Linked DNA regions of Homo sapiens. The protein of the gene in region 2 purifies or fractionates together with the protein of the main gene of each other region. This does not show direct contact. Each region holds a gene or a part of one and is shown on either strand. Other genes may lie near its edges.

Region 1 (3,891 bases), on a different chromosome or scaffold from region 2:
TGATCCACCCACCTTGGCCTCCCAAAGTGCTGGGATTACAGGCGTGAGCCACTGTGCCTGGGCTAAAAATCTTTTATACTCTGTTTTTACTTTTTCGATGTTTAGATACACAAATACTTACCACTGTGTTACAATTCCCTACAGTGTTTAGTACAGTAACATACTGTACAGCTTTGTAGCGTAGGTGTGGAGAAGGCTAGACCATCTAGGTTTGTATAAGTATACTTTATGATGTTCGCACAACAAAATCACTTAACATTGCACTTACCATAACTTATCCCTGCCATTAAGTGATAAATGTACTTTTAGCATTCCTTGTCTTTACATTCTAAGCACATACTTTGATTTTAAAACTGGATAAATGTATTACATATTTCCGTCAAAAGAGAAAAAACAAGTAACATGACTTTTTATTTATATGACTGTGAACTGATCTTTTTTCGTGTTCCTCAACTCCCCTCAAAAGTTCTTCCATTCTTTTCCCATTGTTTGAAATTTCTGAAAATAACCTAGAAAAGACTGATGCTATAGTTTTTTTTTTTTTTTTTGGAAACAGACTCTCTGTCACCCAGGCTGCAGTGCAGTGATTATTTTTATATATTTTAAATAAAATGGACCTTTAAAAAAGATTTATGATCCTTTTGAAGATAATTCATGACATACTAAAATGTTTTAAAACCTAGGCTGAAAATAATGACATCTGTTCCCAATACTTTCCTATTAAAAATGTGCTGGACATCTGGAATGCTGATAATTCAATAAATAATGCCTACCAGGTTCATTACGCATAGTTCATTTGCCTTCGTAGTAACATTTAACTCCTGAGATTGGTCTGTAAGTTGTATTTTCCCCAATATTTGGTAATAATGACAACAATGTAGAATAACTAAAAACAAAAAACAAGCATGCAGCTTTTTTTCATTTTTTTTTAAATTTTTAATTAATTCTTTTTTTTTTTTTTTTTTTTTTAAGACAGTCTCGCTCTGTCACCAAGGCTAGAGCACAGTGGTACGATCTCGGCTTACTGCAACCTCCACCTCCTGGGTTCAAGTGATTCTCCTGCCTCAGCCTCCCGAGTAGCTGGGATTACAGGAATGTGCCACCATGCCTGGCTAATTTTCATATTTTTAGTAGAGACAAGGTTTCACCATGTTGGCCAGGCTGGTCTCAAACTCCTGACCTCAAGTGATCTGCCCGCCTCAGCCTCCCAAAGTGCTGGGATTACAGGTGTGAGCTACCGTGCCGAGCCTAATTCTTTTCTGTAAGTAGCTTTTGAGACAGGGTCCTTGCTGTGTTGCCCAGGTTGGAGTAGTGGCATGATTACAGCTCACTGCAGCCTCAACCTCCTGGGCTCAAGCAATCCTCCCACCTCAGCCTCCTGCGTAGCTGGAATCACAGGTGTGCGCCACTATACCTGGCTAATTTTTCTATTTTTTGTAGAGATGGGGTCTCGCTACGTTGCCCAGGACTAACATGCTTCTTCATCACAGGCACTCAGCAGCACAAAGACTCTCGTCCTGAATCATTTCCCTTCCCCTAAATGAAACCTTGCTTCTTACCTCGTGACTGTAAGAGGCGGGGTTTCCGAGACGAATGTTTGAAGTGGGACTGGGTGGCCTCGTGATGAAGGTCAAAGCTCGAGGACTCCTGAACTGGATCCAGAGGCACCATCCCCCTTGCGAGCATCTCAGGTCCATGAACTTGACCTGGGACCTGAAGACAGACAGGTTGGGCTTGTGGGTAAATCACTTTGTAAATGGGAATTAAAATATTTAAAAACAGACCATGAGTATGCCAGTGGATGCAGGAAGAAAGCCAGAACATTTTTAAGACAGAGTAACCACCTAATAACCTAAAGCCTGCCAATACTTCTCCTGGCTCCAGTTTCAACGTCTGTGCCCTGCTCACACATAATAGGTTTCACCTCTTTTTACCTGTTGTCCTGATAAATCAAGCTCCAAGTCTTCTAGAAGGGTCACGGCCTCCTCTCCACTATCGGGGCGGTATTCCTGCAGCCAGACCTGGAGCTCCTTGGGCAGGATGGAAAGAAACTGCTCTAGCACCAGAAGCTCCAGGATCTGTTCCTTGGTGTTTATTTCTGGCCGCAGCCACTGATGACAAAGTTCCTTCAGCCGACTGAGAGCCTCTCGGGGCCCAAAAGTGTTCTGGTAACAGAAGCGCCTGAAGCGTTGGCGGAATATCTCTGGGTCTGGAGGAGGCGTGTCCTGTAGGGTGGAATCCTGCCCCCACATGTGGTCTTCCTCATCTTCCTCTTCCACCTTCACTATTACGATACCATCCTTCTCCTGTGCAGCCTGTGGGGACAGACCCGTGGCTTCCCGTGATTCAGCAGTCATCATTCAGGCTCCAGGAACTGACTTGATCCAAACAGGGTCTGTGCTCACCTTTATGTCCTGGGAGGTTTTATGATGTGTTTCTTTACTATTCCTGAAGTATAAAAAAAAAGTCATTAGTACGTACCTTTACAAAAAGTGATCTGTGCTGCTAACACTTTATAGGAGGCAGCACATCGAGGCACTATCAGAACGCTCCTGAGGCCGGGGGTGGTGGCTCACGCCTGTAATCTCAGCACTTTGGGAGGCCGAGGCAGGCCAATCGCCTGCGGTCAGGAGTTCAAGACCAGCCTGGCCAACATGGTGAAACCCCGTCTCTACTAAAAATACAAAAGTCAGCAGGGCATGGTGGCAGGCGCCTGTAATCCCAGCTACTCGGAAAGCTGAGGCAGGAGAAACGCTTGAACCCAGGAGGTGGAGGTTGTAGTGAGCCGAGATTACGCCACTGCACTTCCTACCTGGGAGACAAGAAGTTAAACTCCGTCAAAAAAAAAAAAATCCTGACAAATCGAGGAAAAAACTGTACAATCTCCACTGTCACTTCATATATCAAGATTTGCAAACAGAAACCTCAAACAGGCCGACTCCACCCTCAGGGTGTTTGCTTGGAGTCAGAGTGATTTACCTGCAGGTTGACAGCAGGTTACGAAATGGAGCATTAACAGTGCCCAGCCCAGAGAGCTGAATGTTAGCAGAGTGCCAGGTGCCAGGCTTAAAGCAGTACACGCACCATCTTCTTTTGTCCCTACAACAGCCCTAGCAGGTCGGCCAAACTGTTAAGTGCTGTTTTACAAATGACATAACTGAGGGTTAGGTTTGCTCAGTAGTAGGTGGCTGCCTACTGGAGTCAATATTCAACCAAATTTGAAGCCCTGGGACCTACTTTTGTACCATCCAGCTACTTTTGCTATTTTTATGAGTGACTTGGGCAGTTAAATTGTGGTTTCCAAAGTACAAGATGATCCGCAAAGGATACAGAAAGAAAATAATTGGAATGTCTGTATCTTAAAAGAGAGAGAAATTAAGCTATAAATTGACACTAATACACTTACTTAGTCTGTGCTGACCTGTCACAGGTGTTGTTCATTTTAGACATTGTGATGTAGACTGGTTTATCTGAGACCAGTTATGTGAAATAATGGATTTCTAAATCTAGCTTTGGCTGGGCGCAGTGGCTCATGCCTATAATCCCAAAACTTTGGGAGGCCAAGGCGTGCGGATCACGAGGTCAGGAGATCGGGACCATCCTGGTCAACATGGTGAAACCCTGTCTCTACTAAAAATAGAAAAATTAGCTGGGCGCGGTGGCGGGCACCTGTAGTCCCAGCTACTTGGGAGGCTGAGGAAGGAGAATCACTTGAACCCAGGAGGCGGAGGTTGCAGTGAGCCGAGATCGCGCCACTGCACTCCATCCTGGCCACAGAGCGAGACTCTGTCATAAAAGAGACAAGCAGCTTTAAAGATTCTTGTGGCCAGATATGGTAGCTCATGCCTATAATTCCAGCCCTTTGGGAGGATGAGGCAGGAGGATGCTTGA
Region 2 (3,891 bases):
ATTTTCGCAACCTACTCATCTGACAAAGGGCTAATATCCAGAATCTACAATGAACTCAAACAAATTTACAAGAAAAAAAACAAACAACCCCATCAAAAAGTGGGCCAAGGACATGAACCGACACTTCTCAAAAGAAGACATTTATGCAGCCAAAAAACACATGAAAAAATACTCATCATCACTGGATCACTGGCCATCAGAGAAATGCAAATCAACACAACAATGAGATACCATCTCACACCAGTTAGAATGGCGATCATTAAAAAGTCAGGAAACAACAGGTGCTGGAGAGGATGTGGAGAAATAGGAACACTTTTACACTGTTGGTGGGACTGTAAACTAGTTAAACCATTGTGGAAGTCAGTGTGGCGATTCCTCAGGGATCTAGAACTAGAAATACCATTTGACCCAGCCATCCCATTACTGGGTATATACCCAAATGACTATAAATCATGCTGCTATAAAGACACATGCACACGTATGTTTATTGCGGCACTATTCACAATAGCAAAGACTTGGAACTAACCCAAATGTCCAAGAATGATAGACTGGATTAAGAAAATGTGGCACGTATACACCATGGAATACTATGCAGCCATAAAAATGATGAGTTCATGTCCTTTGTAGGGACGTGGATGAAATTGGAAATCATTTCTCAGTAAACTATCGCAAGAACAAAAAACCAAACACCGCATATTCTCACTCATAGGTGGGAACTGAACAATGAGAACACATGAACACAGGAAGGGGACCATCACACTCTGGGGACTGTTGTGGGGTGGGGGGAGGGGGGAGGGATAGCTTTAGGAGATACACCTAATGCTAAATGACAAGTTAATGGGTGCAGCACACCAGCATGGCACATGTATACATATGTAACTAACCTGCACATTGTGCACATGTACCCTAAAACTTAAAGTATAATAATAATAAAAAAATAAAAAAATAAAAAAATAAAAGAGTGATCACGTAGGCCCAGCGCGGTGCTCACGTCTGTAATCCCAACCCTTGGGAGGCCGAGGTGGGAGGATCACTTGAGGTCAGGAATTCAAGACCAGCCTGGCCAACATGGTGAAACTGTGTCTCTACTAAAAATACCAAAATTAGCTGGGAGTGGTGGCACTTGCCTACAATCCCAGCTACTCAGGAGACTGAGGCAGGAGAATTGCTTGAACCTGGGATGCAGGGGTTGCAGTAAGCCGAGATCACGCCACTGCATTCCAGCCTGGGTGACAGATTAAGACTCCATCTCAAAAAAAAAATTAAAAAAAAAAAAAAAAAAGAGTGATCATGTAAAGACTCTTTGAAAAAGTGTTATTTTATTTCTTTTTTTAGAGACAGGGTCTTTCCACTCTGTCACCCAAGCTGAAGTATAGTGGTACAATCACAGCTCACTGTAAGCTCAAATTCCTGGGCTCAAGTGATCCTCCTGCTCCAGACTTTTGAGTAGTTAGGACTATAGGTGCACATCAGCACACCTGGCTAGTATTTTCTTTTCTTTTTTTGTAGAGACAGAGTCTCACTATGTTGTCCAGGCTGGCTGGTCTTGAACTCTTGAACTCCTGGCCTCAAGTGATCCTCTCACCTATATATTTTTGTCTGCATTTCTATATTTTGAACATTTCCCATGCTAAAAATTAACTTATGTTCATAAATGAGGGAAACTTGAATCAAATGAATAGTTAAAAAAGAGAAGAGTAAAACACATTTACAGTGACTATCCCCAAATTTATCTGCTTTCAAGTTTGGATTTTAGAATATGTCATTATTTTAATGTGACATTTTTCCTAGAGTTTGTTTAACTTAATCATAGGATTAAACTTTAAAAATAACAGATCATTGTTGACTGACATAAACACCATCAATTATGTCACACAATTATAAGCTGGAAAGTCTACTTACACTTGGTATTATAGGAGGTGTCAAGGTACCTTTTCTTAAGCCTTCCCAGTTAAAGCCCTCAAACCATCTAGAAAAGGAAAAAACGTTGATAAAAACATTTTGTGTCAGCTAAAAGCTTCTCATTGCAGTGTATACAATGTCCATGGCTAATGGGAAGCAGTTAGGCAAACATTTTCATGTGACAAAAATGTTTTCTATTTAATTGCATATGTTTTCCTAATAGTTTATTTTATGAAATACATATTTTTAAAAGTATAACTGTCAAATTTTAAACACCAATTAACATGCAACACTTATTCCTTGTAATTCAGTCATAATGTCTCTATGACCTTGTTCCTACACTATAATTAAAATTTAATACATGTCATAATGTGTCTGGCCCTGTGCCTTACAGGATATTTTATTTTAAGGAGGTAGAACCAGGGCATGAAAAGTCAGGATAGAAAATTAACTTTCCATTTTTGCCACTGATTCAGTGCACAGTGTCAGCTAATTAACCTTTTCACATCATTGTCATAGTCTCTACATGTCCCATTTTCTTCTTTTTTTCCCTTTTTTAATGAAGAATAAAGATATTTTGTGTACAGTTTTTCTGTGAAAATAAGAACCAAAAAAGACTAAAGTTTTTGCTTGTTTGTTTTCTTTTGTCTTTGAAGGGTTTCAGCATTAGCAAATGCTTACAACAAATTCTTAGCAGGCTTTTCAGATATTCAGAGATATTTTAGTAAACATGTTTCTTTGATAAGGATGTGAATTTCCTGTCAGTGTTACACAAACAAATAGAGAAAACCCAATTAGTTTAGCTTTAGAACATCCAATCAACATAGGGAAGGTCTGATATTTAAGATGTTGCTATTGTTTAAAAAACACTGTATTCTGTACTTATGTTTTTCTCCTGTTATAACATCTAATTAGGAAATGCTTGGAAAAATATATTTTGTCTTTAGGAAATCAGGTAAGATACAGTAGGGGACTTTTATTTGTAATTCTGTGGTAGAGAATAGAATCCCCAAATTTAAAATACACATTTCCCCTTTGTGCCAGAGGGGAAAAAAATGCTAGTTGGTATGAGTTGTAAGAAACTGAGTTCAGCTTCTTATGTTACAGGGTTGTCAGATAAATATAAATAAGGTTTCATAATCACAACTAGAAAGGCATTTAAAAGCCTTACTAGTTTATACGCTGTCTTTGGATGTTCCTATAGGCTAATTATACTAGTTTTACACCAATAACTTAAAAAGCAACACCCTGGGGAAATGATGTCACGTGTTCAGAACTCTGCAGAAAGAACACTTACTTGTGCTTTTGAATGTCTTTTACTCCATTTTTCAAATTCCCTAATCTTTCTGATGGATTGTCCCTAAAAATAAAATAATGGTTTTATTAAATCTAATTTTTTCACATTATGATGTTTTCAAAAATAATGTGGTTGAAATACTTACCTGCATAGTTTTTTAATTAAATTAGCAGCATTTTTGGCAATCTTCTTTGGAAATTCTATCATGTCAATCCCCCTCAATATGATGTTATAGGTTTTCATAGGATCTGGGCCTGAGAAAGGTGGGCTGCAAGAATGAGAGACACGACAAGAGATATTACTTTTATTTTCTACATGAGAACACTTGAATTGCTATAAACTCCACAGATGACATCAATTCATATTTGGGGGCTTAGATTAATAGTGACAATGGAATGAAAATAGATTAATAGCAAAACAGTGTGGAAGCCCTTCCAAGTAAATCACTTAGTGAAACCAGAAATGGGTCAAGTTTATCTGCTCTTCTCTTGCTTTCTTTTAAGTGCTGGAGTCTAAGCCCTCATGCTGTCCTTGGTCATTCAAGATGCTTCTTCTACTCTCTGACCTTTTCCACACTTACTGACTCATTGATTATACTTGAGATGAAGTCCAAAATCATTAGGAGGGGCCGCAGGAACACCAACGATACTACCCCACCTCATGCCATTACCACCCTCACTCACTGGGATCCA

Evidence for each region.
Region 1: the proteins of PRKG1 (region 2) and ZKSCAN1 purify together in Homo sapiens (affinity purification with mass spectrometry; 2 studies listed by BioGRID and IntAct, with this or other methods). This does not show direct contact.

What each region holds. Positions count from the first base shown.
Region 1 is NC_000007.14:100,021,976-100,025,866, reverse strand, and holds part of ZKSCAN1 (zinc finger protein with KRAB and SCAN domains 1), read right to left. Parts: intron 2,973-3,891; exon of another isoform or gene 2,813-2,972; intron 2,449-2,812; 5' UTR 2,361-2,448; coding exon 1,935-2,360; intron 1,714-1,934; coding exon 1,560-1,713; intron 1-1,559. UniProt on the Homo sapiens protein: May be involved in transcriptional regulation.
Region 2 is NC_000010.11:52,288,302-52,292,192, reverse strand, and holds part of PRKG1 (cGMP-dependent protein kinase 1), read right to left. Parts: intron 3,468-3,891; coding exon 3,345-3,467; intron 3,263-3,344; coding exon 3,200-3,262; intron 1,970-3,199; coding exon 1,903-1,969; intron 1-1,902. UniProt on the Homo sapiens protein: Serine/threonine protein kinase that acts as a key mediator of the nitric oxide (NO)/cGMP signaling pathway. GMP binding activates PRKG1, which phosphorylates serines and threonines on many cellular proteins.